Linked DNA regions of Homo sapiens. The protein of the gene in region 2 purifies or fractionates together with the protein of the main gene of each other region. This does not show direct contact. Each region holds a gene or a part of one and is shown on either strand. Other genes may lie near its edges.

Region 1 (7,029 bases), on a different chromosome or scaffold from region 2:
AAGGGGAGGTTACAATCTCTGCTAATATTCTGAAATGTGTTGTGTTCTTTCTGAATTGTTAATGTGGTATGCTTGCCATTGCTTCCCTTTCCCATCTTTCATAGTGAGATTGGGCATGAACTCAGACTCTTTCTTAGTAGCTGTATTTTAGGCAACAGTCATTTGTAGTTGGCATTTCAAGTAAAACCTAATTGCTCTCTGTATTCTGTTTTCCGATGCATTTTTCATAATCTCTTTATTTACTTGTTTTTATTACTGTTTCAAATTAGTCTTAGAATCAAATTTGTATGAATTACTAATGTCATAATAAAGATAATCTATATATATTGATCTCTTTTTTTTTTTTTTAACCATAGGACCTACCAGATAGTATTCAAGTAGGTGGCAGGATATCACCTCAGACAGTTTGGGATTATGTGGAAAAAATAAAAGCATCAGGAACCAAGGTGAGGAAAACTTTTTTCACTATACCAGCATGGGAAAATGTTTAGAAAGTAAACAGTTTAGAATTCTTATGCAAGGGTGCAAAGTCTCCTGGGGAAAGGAGGCAATACACATTTTAAGTCTATGTAATATACCTCACAAAACTGAACAAAAGCCATTTGCTGAGGCTGTCAACAGTACAGCATTTTTTTTTTTTCCTCTCCTGGGATGCTCTCTTTGTGGCTTCTGTTAATGTTTTAGAAGAAATGTTTTAGAGTAAGTATTGAAATTCACCCTGGAATTTTGCCTTGCTTCTATTACAGACAAGTGTTTGAGTTAGGGCACAGCTAAGCTATTGCAAAAAAGAGAATCTAAAATATAGTGACTCAAAAAATACAGAAGTTGATTGGAGTGTTGTCCTCAGCAGTCAAACATACCAAATAGGAGTAAATGAGGAATACCTGTCTAGTTGTTTGAAAGGCAAATTGCAGTCATTAACTTCCATTGGAAAGAACCTAGTCACATAGCCATCCATACATAGCTGCTAGGGAGGCTGGGAAATGTAATCTTTATTGGATGGCCATGTGCCCAGCTAAAAGTTAAGGGCTTCTTATTAGTAATAGGAGGAAAGGAGAAAAGATACTGCGAAATGGCTCTATCACAATAATATTTCTCCTTTTCCTTTTTCTCTCTACATTTTCTTTTCTTTTTTTAACTTATAGAATATTACTACAGAGGAAAATTTAATCATTAGAAGAAATTGTTTTTCCCTCCACGGGATGTGATAGTACCTAGTATATTAACAGTCATTCGATAAATAAATCTTGAATGAATAAATGTTACTTTTTTGCCTCTTTTTCAGAAGTCTCTAGCTTTTCTTTGGAATGATCCAAAATGGATAATCTTAAGCTGAAAAGAATATTTTGTTCCAGTATAGATTTTTAGAATTTAAATTGATACAGTGTTAAAATACAAATAAACTTTAAAGCACTAATAAAAATGAGAAGTATTACTCTTGGGCATTTTGAGAATCACTCTTGAATCCACACATATATTACTGCCCAACACTTTATAGTATGTTCCAATTTAACAGATTTAAACACTCTGTAATAGTTGTTACTAACATATGTATGGTGATTTTTACTCTAAAAGAGGGCAGTTTAGATGACACACATTTTATAAGAGAGTCATATTTCAGCTCATTCACATGTTTTCCTTAGGAGCTTGTATCAGTTTTAGGCTTTGCAGCAAATCTGGCTCTCCCATTTCGGCCATATACCATCATGAAAAAAAACATTGTTGTTGAACACTACCAAATTAATAACAAATTAGGACTGTCTTTTCTATCTGAAACAAAACCTAGAGGCAAGCAAGAAAATTCCTAAGCCAAATTACTTTACAAAATTTACGGTCTATATGTATTTAAGGTCTCTTCATCCAGCCCTTTTTATTTCTAAATTCAGTGCCTAGTAACTGGATTATTAGTAGATTTGTCTGTTTGTGTATATAAATGTATGGTAGGGTGGAAGTGTTGGGTGCTTTTAGTTCCCAGTGGTTCAAGAACATAAGCAGCCCTTTGTGGAGGTTACAGCATTGGAAATCAGGATATAGTGTAGATATTAGAAGACTTGGGTTTCAGTATCATCTCTGCCACTGACAAGTTGTATCTGTCACCTTCAAAAAAGTCATTAATCACCTTTGGACTCCATTTCTTATGTTTCCGTAAGAAATGTAAGCTATCAGATAAATCCATCAATGGATCAGTAAAGATCTTTTCTTAAGAGTTACTTGCTTTTAATATTCTCTTCTGTATTTAAGTTGGTAAACCACGTTATTTGGTACCATCATTATAAAGTTCAATAGATTATTACTAATTGAGAAATAGTTTTAAAACCAAGCTACTCTTTAGCTTATTACCTTAAACAATTATTTGTTATTTTCTTGAACAGGAAATTTGTGTGGTTCGCTTCACACCAGTAACTGAAGAAGATCAAATTTCTTATACTTTGCTCTTTGCATACTTCAGTAGCAGAAAGCGCTATGGAGTAGCTGCTAACAACATGAAGCAGGTTAAAGATATGTACCTTATTCCTTTGGGTGCCACAGATAAAATTCCACACCCTCTTGTGCCTTTTGATGGACCTGGTAGGTATACGTTTTAATAATAGGATAAGAATGAAATAACATGGGAGGTGGGACCAGAGTGAAAAGACTGATTCTGCCTTCTTTCTCAGGATCCAGCCCTCTAGAGATGGCTTGACAGGGCCAGGCACCATTTAATATCCTGTAATAAGTTAGAGGCAGAATTTTACCTTTTTTTGCAATGATTGAAAATGATGAATTAATTGATGTTTTTGGTTTTATACAGGGCTTGAACTGCATAGACCTAATCTATTGTTGGGCTTAATTATTCGTCAGAAACTGAAGCGACAGCACAGTGCCTGTGCTAGTACTAGTCATATAGCTGAGACTCCTGAAAGTGCACCACCAATAGCATTGCCACCTGATAAAAAAAGTAAAATAGAAGTTTCTACAGAAGAAGCACCAGAGGAAGAAAATGACTTTTTTAATTCTTTTACAACTGTATTACACAAGCAGAGAAATAAACCTCAGCAGAATCTTCAGGAAGACCTTCCAACAGCAGTTGAACCTTTAATGGAAGTCACCAAACAGGAGCCACCAAAACCTTTAAGATTTCTTCCTGGCGTGTTGATTGGCTGGGAGAATCAACCTACTACTCTGGAATTAGCAAATAAACCTCTTCCTGTGGATGATATACTTCAAAGCCTTTTGGGCACCACTGGTCAAGTATATGACCAGGCCCAGTCAGTGATGGAACAAAACACTGTTAAAGAAATTCCATTTTTAAATGAGCAGACCAACTCAAAAATAGAGAAAACAGATAATGTGGAAGTAACTGATGGTGAAAACAAGGAGATAAAAGTTAAAGTAGATAATATTTCAGAATCTACAGATAAGTCAGCAGAAATAGAAACATCAGTAGTAGGGTCCTCTTCCATTTCTGCAGGGTCTTTGACGAGTCTTAGTCTCAGAGGTAAGCCACCAGATGTTTCTACAGAAGCATTTTTAACAAATTTATCAATTCAGTCAAAACAAGAGGAAACTGTGGAGAGTAAAGAGAAAACATTAAAAAGACAGCTTCAGGAAGATCAAGAGAATAATTTGCAAGATAACCAGACTTCAAATAGTTCTCCATGCAGATCTAATGTAGGAAAAGGAAACATAGATGGTAATGTGAGCTGTAGTGAAAACCTTGTTGCTAATACAGCGAGGTCTCCACAGTTTATCAACCTGAAAAGGGATCCTAGGCAAGCAGCAGGACGAAGTCAGCCTGTAACTACTTCAGAAAGCAAAGATGGAGATAGTTGCCGGAATGGAGAAAAACACATGCTGCCTGGCCTGTCACACAACAAGGAGCACTTAACAGAACAAATCAATGTAGAGGAAAAGTTGTGTTCTGCAGAGAAAAACTCGTGTGTTCAGCAGAGTGACAATTTAAAAGTTGCACAAAACTCACCATCAGTAGAAAACATACAGACTTCTCAAGCAGAACAAGCAAAACCCTTACAGGAGGATATTTTAATGCAAAATATTGAAACTGTGCACCCATTTCGAAGAGGATCAGCAGTAGCGACATCTCATTTTGAAGTTGGAAACACATGTCCATCAGAATTTCCTTCTAAAAGCATCACCTTTACTTCCAGAAGCACCAGCCCCAGAACAAGTACAAACTTTTCACCCATGAGGCCACAGCAGCCCAACCTTCAGCATCTCAAGTCTAGCCCACCTGGATTTCCATTTCCAGGGCCTCCTAATTTTCCCCCACAAAGCATGTTTGGATTTCCACCACATTTGCCACCTCCATTACTTCCCCCTCCAGGCTTTGGCTTTGCTCAAAATCCCATGGTTCCCTGGCCACCTGTTGTTCATCTCCCAGGTCAGCCACAGCGTATGATGGGTCCTCTCTCACAAGCATCAAGGTATATAGGCCCGCAGAATTTTTACCAGGTTAAAGACATTCGGAGGCCAGAAAGGCGCCATAGTGACCCTTGGGGTAGGCAAGACCAACAGCAACTGGATAGGCCATTTAATAGGGGTAAAGGGGACCGCCAGAGATTTTATAGTGATTCACACCATTTGAAAAGAGAGCGACATGAAAAGGAATGGGAGCAAGAATCTGAAAGGCATAGACGCAGAGACAGAAGCCAAGACAAGGACAGAGACAGAAAAAGCAGGGAGGAAGGGCACAAAGATAAAGAGAGGGCACGGTTATCACATGGTGATCGAGGAACAGATGGAAAAGCAAGCAGAGATAGTAGGAATGTAGACAAGAAGCCAGATAAACCTAAAAGTGAAGACTATGAGAAGGACAAAGAACGAGAGAAAAGTAAACACAGAGAAGGAGAAAAGGACAGGGATAGGTACCACAAAGATAGGGACCACACTGACAGAACTAAAAGCAAAAGGTAAAATTTGCAGGCTGCTTCAGGATTACATTTAAATAACTGTTAAAATGTTGTATCTTGTAAACAAAAGAAAGATTGCCTGCTAGGATTGTGCCATCTTTAAAATTTTTACTATTGGTCATTTGCAGAACAGTAAATTCTGTGTGTTGGTACAGAGTGCTCTGTACCAGTGCTCATCATCCCTTCTTCATACCAACGGTCCCTAGTTATAGGAATTTAATATTTTTAAAAGTTTTACATTGCTGTATATTCAAAGATTTGTTTTATTAATATGCAATAAAGGCTTAGAAATTTTAGTTTTATTCCTTAATTGGTAAATATGGTTAACTATGGAATATATTTACTTCCTCTAGTGAATGTCCTTTATATAATGACTAATTTGGGAGTAATGTGTGCTCTGTAAGTTTGTTTTAAATTGCACTGTTTTTAAAGAAACTGTAGAGGAGCAACAAAAATCCAAGCAACTTCATAATCAGATTATGCTAATCATTTAGTTGAGCAGTTTTTGACCAAGAATCAGAAGCCCAAGGGGTACATTTATTGCTTTAATCTGCACTCATTGAAGTCATTTATTACCATATACTACAGCTTTGTGGTAGGCCATTATTTTCATTTTCATTTTTGGCTCTTCAGAAACTTGAATACTTAAGCTTGTACATGATCTTGTGTTTTGCTATCCTTTTTACTGTAAAATGTAAATATTTTAAGGGATATTTTGATTCTAAATATGATAAAATAATTTCTCACCTATTTTGTGTGTGTGACTTGAAATTCAGTAGTAAAAGAATTTCTTCTTTAAAGCTTTAATTACCTTCAGACATTGATTTTTTGTTACTCAGCCAAGAACATATAGAAATAGCTATCTATGTCAGGCATTAGATGAGGGGAAAAACAATTTTTTTAAAATCTTAAATTGTAGGCTGAGATGAATTGTGTAGTTCTAAAGAGGCTAGAATTTAGAACTACCTGTGAAACACTGTGCAGCTATAGCCCACTTTATAGGTAAGTTTCTGAAAACTTTTACACCATCGCAATTTGGTACTCTGACTCACTAATCATTAAAATTAAAGACCGCAGAACTTGAAGAGAAATATGTTTTGAATCCTTTTATAAAATGTGCGATTTAGCCTAATTCGTAAAGTAACTGTACAGTTTCATATGCCAGTTTTACTTGAAAAAAAAATATGAAAACTATTGTTAATTCAAATCTAAATTTATTTAAACCCTAAAACACATGGTTTTGATGGCTGTAATTTAAAGTAAGAGCTATCAAATGATGCTGACAAAAGAAAAACCTTCCAAAATACAAAAGAAAGAGAACTCTATTATTTACTTACCTGTATTAATGAAGAAAAATATAAATAATTCCACAAAATTGATTGTTTTCCTAAAGAGCTTAAAGATTAGAGTTAAAAATTGGTTTTGAAACAGAATTATCCTTGTTATTTTTGCTGGAGAGAAGGGAGGAAATTCAGAACCAAACATTCTATTTAATTTGCAATGACTTGCAGTACTTTTTTCCCTATCCTTATCCTGTGAAACTTACTATCATAAGGTTCTAAAACAGAGAACTTGTGTTTAAATAAAGCCCGTTTAACTTTGGTCCACTTTTCTTTTGGAAATTAACTTGTTAGAAAACAAAGTTAGTTCCCAAACAAAACAAAATCTAAGTTATAATTTGCACCATTACAAAGAAATTGCTGTCAGGGTTTTACACATTTTAAAAACATTTCAATTTCAAATGTGTATATCGTCAATAAATCTACCTTTACTGATATATCTGGTTGAGGGAATATCAGACTCCAGATTTCTTTTGCAAGATGAAAGTAAAAACGAGTGGGTTAATGAATGAAAACAAGCTTTTAGGTCAGTTTTTGATCACCTCTTCGCTAATAGTTTTTTCTACATATCTAAAATTCTTTAATCAGTTCTGATCGAATCTTGATACATGTTTTTAAAATAGGCAAGGCCCATATAGCTTTCTATTAGGGATGAGCATCTCCAGGGGTTAGAGGCAGATCTTGTAACCGCTGATTGACTGAAACATTTTATGGAGAATAGGGAAGGTATGGTCATATTAGCTATTTGAGGTTTTCCTTTTGAGGAAAAAAAGGGAAAA
Region 2 (7,029 bases):
CCACCATGCCTGGCTACTTTTTTTTTTTTTTTTACTTTTATTTTTGTAGAGACAGAGTCTCACTGTGTCACCCAGGCTCGTCTCAAACTCCTGGCCTCAAGCGGTCCTCTCACCTTGGCCTCCCAAAGCACTGGGATTACAAGGATGAGCCACCATACTAGGCCAAAACCTTCTTTATATAAAATTTTTAAGTTACAGATTAGGAGAAAATATTCATAACACAAATAACAAAGGACTTGTATCTAGAATATATAAACAGTCCTTACTACTTAACAACAGATTAACCCAGTACCAAAAAGGCAAAAGATTCGGACAGATTCTCCATCAAGAAAACACAAATGACCAAAAAGAACCTAAAAAGATGCTCAACATCATTAGTCATCAAGAAATGAAAATTAAAACCACACTGAAATACCACTATACACCTACTAGATTGGCTAAAATTAAAGAGAAAAAAAAAACCCTGACAACATAACATGTCAAAGAGGATATACAGCAAATAGAACTCTCATACTCTGGTGGTGAAAATGTAAAATGGTACTATCACTTTGAGAAAGGTAATTTCATATATACTTAAATATACACCAAATGATCCAGCAATTCTTATATACCCAAATTCTCATATACTTAAGCAAACATCTTAAGTGTGTTAACCTAACGTCTTATAAACTGAATTTCTTATAAACTCAAACATCTACCCAACAATTATAGTTCTAGGAAGTAAAAGAAAAATGAAAACGTATGTCCACACAAACACCTGTACATGAATGTTTTACAGGAATGAACTTTATTCCTAACAGCAGAGGTTGACAATATTTTCTTCAATGGTCAAGTAGTCACATTTTAGGCTTTGGGGGCTGTGTACCTGTAACAATTACTCAGCTCTGCCACTGCAGCATGAATGCAGCTATAGAAAACACAAAAGGAACCAGCATTGATGTTTTCCAACAAAACTTTTCGTAATAACAGGTGGCTAATGCCTTAGCTTGCCGACCTCTGATAACAGCCAAAAATGAAAATATAACCAAACGAACATAGACAGTGAATGGATAAGCAAGGTGCATATCCAGTGAATGGATATAAATAAATTGCCTGAGGATGGAATAATACTCCCAATAAAAGGAAAGAACAACTAATACATAAAATGACATGGATAAGTCTCTCAAACATTATGCTACGTGAAAGACGCTGGCACAAAAAACCACATACAGCATGATCCCATTTATATTAAACATTAGAAAGATAAATCTCACCTATCAAAATAAAGAGCAAATTAGTGGCTGCCCGAGGCTAGGGGTAGAGGGTGAGGACTGACTGGGAAGATACACAAGGGAATTTTCTAGGAAGATGAAATTGTATACTACATACTGATCAGGGTGGCTACACCAATGTATACAATTGTCAAAACCCAAAAACTACACTTAAAATGTGTTCGCTTTATTATATATTAATTATACCCCAAAGTTGATCTTAAAAAACAAAGAACACTTCATAAAAAGTTGGAGAATGGCTCTGAGGGGAATTTCTTCCTTTTAAATAAGGCTGGAGGGAAGAATCTAGTTAGAAGTCAAGTTGCAATAATTCTGAATGGACTCAGTGGGAACCTGAACTTACAGTGGTATCAGCTGGAATGAAGAAAAGTAGAGAGATGTGAGAATTATTTAAAACAGTACTTGCATGTAAATATGAAAAAATTCTTAAAACAATATGTAAACATGAGTTTTAAAGAGAATCAATAAGATTAATTCTCAAAGGTAGTTGTTTCTGAGATTCTTACCCATCATGCTTAGTTTCCTTTGTTAATCTTCCATTAGGAGTCATTTTCATTTGCTATCTAGAATTATTTGCCAAAATGTTGCTATACTGTGAAATCATAAAACAAAAATCACATCATATCAAAGAGCCACTTGCTGCTTGTAAATTGTTCATTGTCGGGAATGTGCTAGTCTTCAAACCATCCTAGTTCCTGTCATACAGTCCTAAATCAGAGCTTTTCAAATGTTGAAGATAAAGAATATGCTTGAACTTTTACTCTAGCATTGTTATCCACTCCTACAGTATCTTTTCTGAGGTCTGCCAACAGCCATGTGAGGAAGCTTGGAAGCAGAAATTCTCCCTAGCAAGCTCTGAGATGAATGCAGTCCCAGACAACAGCTTAGCTGCAGGCTTGTGAAAGATGCTGGGTCAGAAACACCCAGTTAAGTGGCAACGGGATTCCTACCTGATCCAGAAACTGTGTTTGTTTTAAGCTGCTAAATTGTAGCAGAATTTCTTATGCAGCAACAGTTACTAAAACAACATCTGGTAACTGCTATTCATTTCTAAGAAGCCACAGGTACCCAAGTTCAAGTTGTCCTGTTGGTACCTTCTTCAATCACCTTGCTTAAAGTTGTCCCAACCATCTGGGTATCTTGTCACCAATCATCTTTTGAAATGGGGCAGGGAATCAGCAGCGTTTCAACGTGCCTTTTGTGACCACATTCCCATTTAAAGTTAAGTATGACTCGTGGTTACTGATGCTGCTACTCAAAAAACTGACATCTATAGTGGCCTAAGCCTATGATTTCATAACATAAAATAATGTTAAGTACTATTAAAATTGTATATTTGGTTCTAGAGCCATGACTACTAAGAGAGTGACTTTTTGAAAATAAATTTTAAAAAGGGAAAAAATCCAATCTATTTAGAACATTGTCTAAGCAGAAAAATTAAGTGCTTTCTACTCTGCATTACTAAAATAAAAGTCTTGGCCAATAAACAGAATTTTCTTAGGACAATATATACATATCAGATTAGCATGTTGTTCTGTTTTATTCTTCCATAATTTTTCTATAACGCTAATTCTGTAAATCAATACACAACATGCTGAATATACCTGACAACATACAAACATTGTAGGCTCACGGTCACAATGACAGTGAACCAAGTACTTAATCATATTCTAAAGCAGTTACTTGCTAAAATATTGCATATCATACCACTGGTACTATATGTAAGGTAAGCAGTTCATAGACACAGAATTAAACAATCTTTAATAAAATGGTAAGCACGTTGCTTCCCCTTCCTCCATTTTCTTTTGATCCTTTCACTTTACATTAAGGACAAAAGTGTGGGTTTGTTTTACCAGTCTTCCAACCTTCACCAGATCTTTTCACCAAACATATACAAAAGTTATGTCTCAGCCTCAGACCATTTACAGCAGGTAATAGTATCTATTTGATTTTAAGAGAGAAAAAATATCTCCTTTTTAAAAAATGGTACTTAAGGGAAAATAAATAATAGTATAGGTCAGTGATTCTCATAGTGTGGTCCCTAAACCAGCAGCAACAGCACCAGCATTACCTGGAGACTTGTTGGAAGTGGAAACCCTTAAGCCAGAAACCCAAACCTTCAGAATAGAAAATTCTAGGGGTTGGAACAAACAGTTTTAATAAGTTCTACAGATGTATTTCATGTACTTAAGTTTGCAAAATACTGATATATATGAGAGCAGAAACTGCAAAATCACAGTACTAATAAATCATATTAAAAAGATACAGCAAAAATCATAAAAGTGATGCATAAATAGCTGAAGTTTGAAAACTACTGTGCTAAAGCAAAACTGCTATCATCACAGTAAATCTTTATGTTGAAAAAAATAAAAAACTACCCTGCAGAAAATAAAGAAAATTTGACTCTGCTATCACAACACTTATTTCCTTCTAGCCAAATCACTGTGAAACAGGTAACCTTTACTATATAAAGCTTATCTTAAGCAAAGAATCAACATTTAAAAATATACTGGCTTCCATTATCTGGTATGCAAATGTATCTAACATTCATGAAAATGGCAAGGGCATTCTAAAATAGTCAAAACGATGATGTTTATTTGAACTTCACTTCATTTTAAGGAATCTTTGAAACAGCCTTCTTTCTCCTCCTTCTCAGTCTCACTTGTGGAATGCTCCTTCTTTTCCTAACCTCTAAATGGTAGAGGGCCACTGAACTCAGTAATTGGCTCTCTTCTCTTTCCTGTCAACAGTTACTCCTTAGGTGAACTGATCCTATCCAGTCTCACGGCTTGAAATCCCACATGGATGCTGATCGCTCCCAAATTTGTGTCAATACCCCTAACCTATTCTCTGAACACTAGACTCAACATATCTAACTATCCATTCCATATCTCCTCTTACATGTCTCATGGGCACTTTAACCTACATGCCTTATATACAGACCTCACATTTTTCAACTCTCTGTTCAAATGTAACTTCTTCAGAGAAGGCTTCCATGACTATCCCACGTAAAACAACTTCTCCCTCACTGTCCATCCCATAACTTTTTAAATTTTTCATGGCACTCATCACCTACTGCTACATAAATTACTTATCTGTTTTAGGTAAGCTCTAAAAGAGTAGAGTCCTTGTTCAGTTTCACCCTCTGCATACAGAACACACTTAATAAATATTTATGAAAGGGAGACAATACTGTGAAAGGATATATGTTTGAAAGATAAAAGTATAAAGGGGCTTTTTACCAACGAGTAATACAAATGATGAAAAGATACTTACTTTTCCTTTTTTTCTTGTTTGTGGGCCTCTCTCGTAATTTGAGCTGCTTTTCTACTATATGGATGGATGACTTTTTTTTCCCGTCCTGCACTTTTTCCCTTTGGTGCTTTGGGCTAAAATGTATGAAAACACATGACACATATAGTCAGATATGTAAGTGCCTTCAGTCCCAAAAATATTCTTTACAAATAAATTTTAAAAACAGTAATATGACAGAAATACAGTAAGCTAAAACTATTACAAGAAAAATCAGGAGATAAGCCAGGATCATTAAATAATTCTAATAATCTGTTGCCATGGTAATGACAGAAACGATATATTCAGAGGTGCTCTCCAATGACAGAAGAAAGGCACAGAAGGAGTCAATAAACTCAGCTCTTCAACAACATGTTCTATCTTCAAAGAAGATACAGGGACTACAGATAGTGAGGAGACTCACAGCCAGAAATTTGTTACAGTTAAGAAAATTAAGGGGTCAGAAGGGACTTGGATTATTAGTAGGGGCTTGATTGTAGATGTTTCACATGGAACAAAGCGGGCAATGAATCATGCAAAATCAAAGCTGGGCTCATTGCCTGTACAAATTAGGAATAGAGAAAATAATAGAAGCCATCTCAAAATTAGTATATCCAAAAGGAAAAATGTATCATTTTCCCACTGAAGCCTTATGCCAGTTAATCAGCCCACAATTCATTAGGTCCTCCAAACTAGACATCTCAGGTTTCTTTTATTCCTACATAATCCTGTATCTTACCTCACCTATAATGATCTAGGAATCATATTTGGCTCTCTGTAATAAAAACCCCAAATAATGGCATAACCCAGCTTAAGTTTGGTTCTTTATTGTTAAAAGTAGGAGCTGAAGGTTCTGTTCCACAAAGCCCTTAGGGATCCAGGATCCTTCCATTTTTTTGTCTACTAGCCTCAGGCTATACCTCCTATCTAGTTCAAGACAGCCTAATACCAGGTCTACACTCAAGCCAGTATGAAGTAGGAAAAGAAAAATCTGAAGGTACATCCCCTTTTTTTAAGAGCATGACCTGGGAAGTTGCAGATCCTTTTGCTCACATCCCACTGACCAAAATTTATTCACAGTGTTACATAAGGGAGAGTAGTAAATATAATCCTTATTCTGTGAGAAAAAGATCCATTCATATAGAAAAACAGAAAGAATACATTAGGGGACAGCTGGCAGTCTCCAACATACCTATTCCAGAAAAAGGCCAAGTGGCTTTACACTCTTCTTCAAAATTATTGTCAATTGCTTAATTCAATCCTCAGAATCTTTCATAATCAGGATAGTCTTTAGATTCTCCCCACTAGTCCTTTCTTCGGCAAAGCTACAGAGCTTGTCTTCATAAAACACTAATATAGTAAAGTCCCTCTCCCCTGCTTAAAGTGCTCTACTAGCTCACAGTTAGGTCCCAAGTCTTTAGCACAGAAACAATCTAGCCCCAACCTGCTTCTCCACCATTATTTCCCATGCTCCTCTATAAAAGATTCTTCACGCCATTCTTACTGAACTTCTCACCATTCCAGAACATACCAAGCTATTTCATAACTTCTTGAGACTGCACTTGTTATTACCTCTGCCTGCAAAATACTTTACTTGCCCTTTGATAAGATGCAGTTCAAAATTACTTCCTTTGTAAAACTAGGCAGAACTATTTAAAATAACCACAAATTCCTCATTCACAAATATATTCATTCTTTCAACACTCATTGAGCGCTCTGCTCGCTTTCTGATAAACCTGAGAAGATATATCCACATCTGAATCTTAAGGTATCACTGGAAGTTGGTTACAGGTATAGGAAAATATGTAGAACCATCATATAAGAGTATATGTACTCTTTTATGTATCTCTCTGCTCACATGGCAAGTGCAGAGGAGAAAGGCAGGTGTAATGAGGAATTTTTGAGATTAAAGTACCTAGCAAACATGAATCAAGTAAAAACTTTCAGGACATTTGGCAGGCTGCCTCTAAGATGGACCCAATAAACCCCACCTCCTGATCCTCATGCCCTTATGGAATCCCCTCCTTTTGAATGTGGGCTGGACCTACCGACTCACTTTTAATGAAGAGCATTTAGCAAAAGCAATGAAATGCCAATTCTGAGATTAGGTTATCAAAGAAGTCTGGCTTCCATCTTTCCCCCTCTCATGGAAACCAGCTGTCCTGTAGTGAGCTGCCATATGGAGGGGCCACATGACAAATAACTGAGGGAGGCCTCCAGACAACAGCTAGTGAAGAAGTGAGGCCTGCAGTTCAACAGTCCACGAGGAGCTGAATCCTACCAAGAACCAGCTTAACAATCCTACCAACAGCAAGCTTAGAGGCAGATCCTCAGCCAAGCATGGTGGCTCATGCCTGTAATCCCAGCACTCTGGGAGGCTGAGGCAGGTGGAATCACTTGTGGCCTGGAGTTCAAGTCCAGCCTGGCCAACATAGCAAAACTCCATCTCTACTAAAAATATAAAAAT
Region 3 (7,029 bases), on a different chromosome or scaffold from region 2:
TTTCATTAACAGATGGCTTAGACCATTTTAGGAAATTCCTGATTGGGTAAAACAGAACATAAACATTTTAGCAATTAAGAGTTAGATATATCTTACAGTCAATAAGTATTCTTTTTTTTTTTTTTTAAACAGTGCCTTTGCTACCCTAGAAGAGGAGGCTTGTACAGAACTTGTTCCTTACCTTGCTTATATACTTGATACCCTGGTCTTTGCATTTAGTAAATACCAGCATAAGAACCTGCTCATTCTTTACGATGCCATAGGAACATTAGCAGATTCAGTAGGACATCATTTAAACAAACCAGTAAGTATCTGTTAAGAACTATTAGGGAAAATAATGTGTAGCATAGTTACAATTAATAGATTAGCATATATTTGGAAATTAAGATGTTTTGGGAGATGTGAATAGTTAGCGTTAGCTACTTTAAGAGTATAGATCTTACAAAGGCAGCAAGTATATCCCCTTTCATGTGGTATTCTTAAAGTAAATACATACTTGGTGTGGAAACTACAGCAGCATTTCACATGAATGCTCTGATACTTTTTAGAATGACTAAAGCAAAGGGATAAAAAAGTTTTTATAATCTGGATATCTGCTTTTACTTAATTCCTAATGTTTTTGAATCTACCACTTCATAAACACTGTAGCTTTAGAGTACCATATCTAGACATCTTTGTTTTTTCAGCAGGTACGGGGAGTATACTGTATAAAACAAATAGAAATTGGGGTAGTAGGTTTAAAAATGCTAAATAGTAATGCAAAAGTGCCTTGTTTCCAGTAGTGTTAGTAGAAGAGGAGGATGGATTTGTCTAATGAGGATTTAAGTGATAGTAGAATTTTAATATAGCTCCACATACCCTGCTGAATAGACTTCTATATGATTGCTATATCCAAAGTCTTAAGAAATTGTTTTATTTTTAAGTTACACTTAAGATTTGGTACAGGGCAGTTTATAGGTTTGCTTTGCTGTTGGTTGTTTGGTTTGGCTTTTGTGGGGGTTTGTTTTCTGAATGTCTTTAGAGTCTGTGCCCCTGTTTACATGATCACTATGTTTAGTCGTTTTATGGATCATTCTTTAGTTTGACACTTAAATGATTTTAAGTTTGTTTTTCTACAAAAGCATCTGTGTAAGTTTACCTGTTGATTTAAAAATGTACTATATAGTAACAGCCATATTACACGTTACAGTTCCATGACTAAAAGGAATTTTTTTGTGTGTGACAAGGTCTCACTCTGTCACCTAGGCTAGAGTGCAGTGGTGTGATCACAGCTCATTGCAACCTCCACCTCCCGGGCTCAAGCGATCCTCCCATTTCAGCCTCCCCTGTAGCTGAGACCACAGGCGTGTACCACCATTCCTGGCCAACTTTTTGTAGAGATAGTTTTGCCATGTTGCCCAGGCTGGCCCAAACTCCTGGGTTCAAGTGATCTGCCTGCCTCAGCCTCTCAAAGTGCTGGAATTACAGGTGTGAGCCACCATGCCCAGCCCCAGAACTAAAAATATTCTGTAACTTAAAGAGAAAAACTTAGGTCTGGGCACAGTGGCTCACACCTGTAATCCCAGCACTTTGGGAGGCTGAGGTGGGCAGATCAAAAGGTCAGGAGATCGACACCATCCTGGCTAACACGGTGAAACCCTGTCTCTTTAAAACTACAAAAAATTAGCCGGGTGTGGTGGGGGGTGCCTGTAGTCCCAGCTACTCGGGAGGCTGAGGCAGGAGAATGGCGTGGACCTGGGAGGCGGAGCTTGCAGTGAGCTGAGATCACGCCGCTGCACTCTAGCCTGGACGACAGAGCAAGACTCCGTCTCAAAAAAAAGAGAAAAACTTAGATCTTCCTTGATTGTGACTTTTTTAAGTAATAGATTTTGATTAGCTGTGTGTTTATTGATAGACTCTTTTTTTCAACAAGGATAAAAGATCAGTAGATCACTAGTTCTAGATCTAAAACTAGAACACGGTCATGTAAGTATAAAGGTAGGCAACAGAAAGGAAAACTTTAAAAGGGACTGTGCAGAGTGAAGAATGACTCTTAAAATGCCTTTTGTAATGATTTTACACAATTGCTCAAAATGGATTTTAATTTTCAAAGACTCAAAATGGTCTTGTTGACATGTGATAGTGGAATTTTATATGTTTTTCATCATTGTAAATAGGAATATATTCAGATGCTAATGCCTCCACTGATCCAGAAATGGAACATGTTAAAGGATGAAGATAAAGATCTCTTCCCTTTACTTGAGGTATGCAGGGCTAGTAATATTTAATCTGTTGCCAAGAACACATGTTCAAATCCAAAATGGGTATATATGATAAGAAAAGTGTTAATAAATTTATATTCTGAAGTAGACGGAGGAAATTATATGATACATACTGTTCTCTAACCTGCTTTACTTAATTGATAATAAATTAGAGTTTTAAGTTCTCTTATGTTATCTACTCTCTATATAGAGTAGATAGCATACTACTCTATATAGTATAGAGTAGATAACATACTGGGAGGATATATATACCGGGATATATATATATATCTTTTCACTCATACATATATGTTGAGTAGTGGGATTTGGTGCCAGTAAGGAGGTACTTATTTTCAAATTTGAAAATGTTTCCATGTGTACTTAACTACTTTTTTTTTTAACACCCCTTTCATTGCAAACTTTTATATGATGTTCTCGTAACTGAACACACTGTGAAATGTAGTCACTTAAACTTAGTTGAATTGACATTGATAGAACCAGTTCAGGCCTTTTCATTCTTGCTCCCTGTTATTTCAAGGTTCACCATCTTCTACCGTGGATTGTTCTTAGCCAAAGAAGTTAAATTTTCTATGACCAAGAGCAATTCTGGGCCCAGCAAAACAAGAAGAATCATTATGGTTCATTTTTTGTATGCAGTCGTCCCTCAGTATCTGCAGGGGATTGTTTCCAGGACTCCCCTTGGATACAGAAATCCAGCGATGCTCAAGTCCCTTATATAAAATGATGTGGTATTTGCATATGGCCTATGCACCTCCTCCCAATATACTTTAAATCATTTTAATTGTTTTTCTAAATACTTTTGATTCAAGATTGGTTGAATCCATAGATACAGAGGGCCAACTGTATATATATTACTTTCCGGCAGGATCTCAGAATGTGCCCAGTAAAGTCCATTCACAACATTGACCAGGATGGGAGCATGAAATGAATCTCTTCAATTTGAGGGAAAAATATGAACACATAATACTCAATCTGTCCTTTAAAGATAATGTTTCTTGTAGAAACGCTTCCTCTGAGTAAACCTGACCTGATTGGCTGGCAAACTAACAACAATGAATGGCTTCCAAAAGAGAGGGTTGGGGTGGGGGGAGGGGAACCTGCTACTGTAGAAACTAGTAGAGCAAGCTCATAAATGATCAGGATCCTGTTGAGCGCAGTTTCAAGCATTCATCATAATCTTCAGTATACCCAGAAAGTTTAGCATGTGTACTTTATTCTTCCTAGTGCCTATCTTCAGTTGCCACAGCACTGCAGTCTGGATTCCTTCCGTACTGTGAACCTGTGTATCAGCGTTGTGTAAACCTAGTACAGAAGACTCTTGCACAAGCCATGGTAATTTTTTTAAAATGTCTTCCTCTTCTTGACATGGTGGACATTTTTCTAAAGATAGGTATAATGTATACAGACTTTTTAAGTAGTTAATTAAAACCAAACTTACAAAAAACATTGTGTCTAATTTCAGCTAAACAATGCTCAACCAGATCAATATGAAGCTCCAGATAAAGATTTTATGATAGTGGCTCTTGATTTACTGAGTGGCCTGGCTGAAGGACTTGGAGGCAACATTGAACAGCTGGTAGCCCGAAGTAACATCCTGACACTAATGTATCAGTGCATGCAGGTGAGACTTGAAAGGTGAAAATGAATTGAAGCCTGTTTCTCTGTGTCACATTGGGGTTAATTTCTTCTTATTTCTTGTAGGATAAAATGCCAGAAGTTCGACAGAGTTCTTTTGCCCTGTTAGGTGACCTCACAAAAGCTTGCTTTCAGCATGTTAAGCCTTGTATAGGTATGAATATTTTCTACTGCTATGAATATGGTTTTTTAAAGTTAACATTTACATCAGCTTTGTTTTTTTATTATTAAACTGAAATTGCATGGAATCCCAACATTTATAAATGTACACTTTATTGGTTAAAGTAAACTTGCTGTGATTGAAACAGGCAAGATGGCAGGAACCCCTAATATTTCCTTGAGCTTGCCATCATCTCAGCTTTTTAGGTACTCCTGTGACTGGAGGAAAGCTTAGTAATATACTTTAGAGTAAAGGACATGCCCACCAGGGAAGCCTTGGTACCATGGACTAGTTAATAGATTCTTTTTTGAGTAGCCACCTTTTTGGTAGAGGTACACAGAAATAGTAATAATCAGGTTTTCTTCTCTAGCAAACCAGCATACTTTTTCAGATATTGCAGAAAACTTCCAACAAATGTCACTTTAACTGAGACTGGGCCTGGGGGCTCACACCTGTAATGCCAGCACTTTGGGAAGCCAAGGCAGGCAGATCACTTGAGGTCAGGAGTGCGAGATTCGAGACTAGCATAGCATTTGTCTTGGCCTTCTGTGACAATGATAAGAAATTCCTTGAATGTTGTACCCGGAATTGTTCTTAAACCTATGGGTTATAAATGAGTTATGGGATTTTTTTCCCCCTTTTCTGCATCTCAGCATGTTGGGTAACAATTATTTTAATACAGCCGGGCACGGCGGCTCAGACCTGTAATGCCAGCACTTTGGAAGGCCAAGGCGGGCAGGTCACGAAGTCAGGAGATCAAGACCATCCTGGCTAACACGGTGAAACCCCGCTTCTACTAAAAATACAAAAACTTAGCCAGGCGTGGTGGCTTGTGCCTGTAGTTCTAGCTACTTGGGAAACTGAGGCAGGAAAATCGCTTGAACCCGGGAGGCAGAGTCTGCAGTGAGCTGATACTGTACCACTACACTCCAGCCTGGGCAACAGAGCAAGACTCCGTCTCAAAAAAAATTATTTTAATACTTCATTTAAACCTTAATTTAAAATATTAATTGAATGTTTTGTCATCTGATATAATTGTGCTTTTGGATAACCATTTCTCAAAAAACTAACATAATTAACATTAATTATGATATATTAAGAACCATCAAGTTTAAACCTAACAGTGTAATGAATTCTTATGGGAAGCTTATCATTCTCATATTTACCACCTAATTTAGTTTTTTAGTTGAAACTTATATGAAAGGATTTAATTTTTTTATTATAAAGTGTTTAAGACGTACAAAAGTAGAAAAAATGTAACAAACCTCCTATCACCCAGCTTCAACTGTCCAGTCCTGTTTCCTATATACTGTTGTCAGTGGTGAGACACATAGATCTCAGATATTTTGGAGCAAATCTCAAACACAGCATTTGAAGTCTTAATATTTTAGTACATACTATACTATCTCTTCTTACAATTGTTTTTTGTTAAAGAAACCATGTTTTTTATTCTAAAGAGTTTCCTTTACTGTGGATTTTACTGATTGCATCTTTGTTGTCTTTAACATGTTCCTCTGTCCGTTGTATTTACTGTAAATTGTTTGGATACAGAGACTGAGGTTTAATGAGATTTACGTTGTTTTGTTTTTAAGACTTTATAGATGGTATTGTGTACTTAGTGTACATAGTGTCTAGTTGTCCCTCCTTTTTTTTTTTTTAATGTTACCAATCTTGATGATTGTCTCAATTAGTGGTTCTCAACTAGGGGCAATTTTGCCATTCGGGGAACATTTGCCAGTGTCTGGAGACATTTTGTTTGATGCTGGAGAGGTGCCATTGATGTCTAGTGGGTAGAAGCAAAGGATGTTGCTAAACATCTTATAATACAGGAGACAGCTCCCCTTCCCCCCAACAAAAAAATGATCTGGCCCAAACTGTCAATATTGCTGAGATCAAGAAACCCTGGCTTACATCTCCTGATTTATTAGGAGTTTAAAAAATTATGATATTCTAATTCTTCATTTAATAATGAAGATACTTATATAGGGAGACATTTCCCATATCAATAAATTACTATCCTGAGGTAAAATCATATAGCAGAGGCAAGATAAATACTTGATTCTTTTTTTTATTTACCAATTTTCAAAATAATGAATTGATTCCTATCATCCTCCAAAGGTATCTTTGATGTTTCAGAGTTTTGTTTTTGTTTGATTGTTTTTAGTGCTAGTGTGACTTCATGATGTTCAAGCTGTTGTACTGCTTGCAGTGAGAACTTAAGTTGGCTCCCGAGTCCTTTCATTATGACAAGATAGTCCACTTATTTTGCACATTTCCTGCCTTTGCCTGTAATGTGACGTTTTCTGAGAGTCCATTTTTTTTTAGTGGAAAATGTTATTCAGAGACCACAATCAGAGCACAAGAGTGAAAATTGCTTTAAAAGCCAAAATCATTGATTTTTTTTTTTTAGTCTAATTACAAGAGATTACTCTGACCAACTCTTTTTAGTGGTATGTAAAATATACCCAAACTTGTATTTCCTGTTCCACATTATTTGAAAGTTCATTGGCCAGATACTGTTTTCTTCAGTTTCTTAAGATAAACATTACCAACTCCTTTAAAAAATATTTTTAAATACAGTTGCCTAGTTTATTTCCACCAATTTTAAAATTGATGTTGCAGTAATTTTTTTAATGGTGAAACTTGTTATTTCTTGCTTAGATTTCTGTTTCCACCTAGTAGATTTCCTTTAAAGTACAATATACTGCTATTGAAAAGTTTACTACATAGTTTAAATTTTTTTTCTAGCTGATTTCATGCCAATATTGGGAACCAACCTAAATCCAGAATTCATTTCAGTCTGCAACAATGCCACATGGGCAATTGGAGAAATCTCCATTCAAATGGGTAAGATGTTTTTCCCTATTTAAAAGCATAAGGCCTGGCGCGGTGGCTCACGCCTGTAATCCCAGCACTTCGGGAGGCTGAGGCGGGCAGATCACCTGAGGTCAGGAGTTTGAGACCAGCCTGGTT

The links. Proteins that work in one complex are often made in the same cells at the same time.
Region 1: the proteins of TMA16 (region 2) and PHF3 purify together in Homo sapiens (affinity purification with mass spectrometry; 2 studies listed by BioGRID and IntAct, with this or other methods). This does not show direct contact.
Region 3: the proteins of TMA16 (region 2) and TNPO1 purify together in Homo sapiens (affinity purification with mass spectrometry; 3 studies listed by BioGRID and IntAct, with this or other methods). This does not show direct contact.

The regions. Positions count from the first base shown.
Region 1 is NC_000006.12:63,708,795-63,715,823, forward strand, and holds part of PHF3 (PHD finger protein 3), read left to right. Parts: intron 1-356; coding exon 357-446; intron 447-2,372; coding exon 2,373-2,568; intron 2,569-2,791; coding exon 2,792-4,914; 3' UTR 4,915-7,029.
Region 2 is NC_000004.12:163,504,664-163,511,692, reverse strand, and holds part of TMA16 (translation machinery-associated protein 16), read right to left. Parts: intron 4,661-7,029; coding exon 4,548-4,660; intron 1-4,547. UniProt on the Homo sapiens protein: Involved in the biogenesis of the 60S ribosomal subunit in the nucleus.
Region 3 is NC_000005.10:72,889,654-72,896,682, forward strand, and holds part of TNPO1 (transportin-1), read left to right. Parts: intron 1-132; coding exon 133-304; intron 305-2,156; coding exon 2,157-2,243; intron 2,244-3,485; coding exon 3,486-3,593; intron 3,594-3,723; coding exon 3,724-3,882; intron 3,883-3,962; coding exon 3,963-4,050; intron 4,051-6,804; coding exon 6,805-6,903; intron 6,904-7,029. UniProt on the Homo sapiens protein: Functions in nuclear protein import as nuclear transport receptor. Serves as receptor for nuclear localization signals (NLS) in cargo substrates.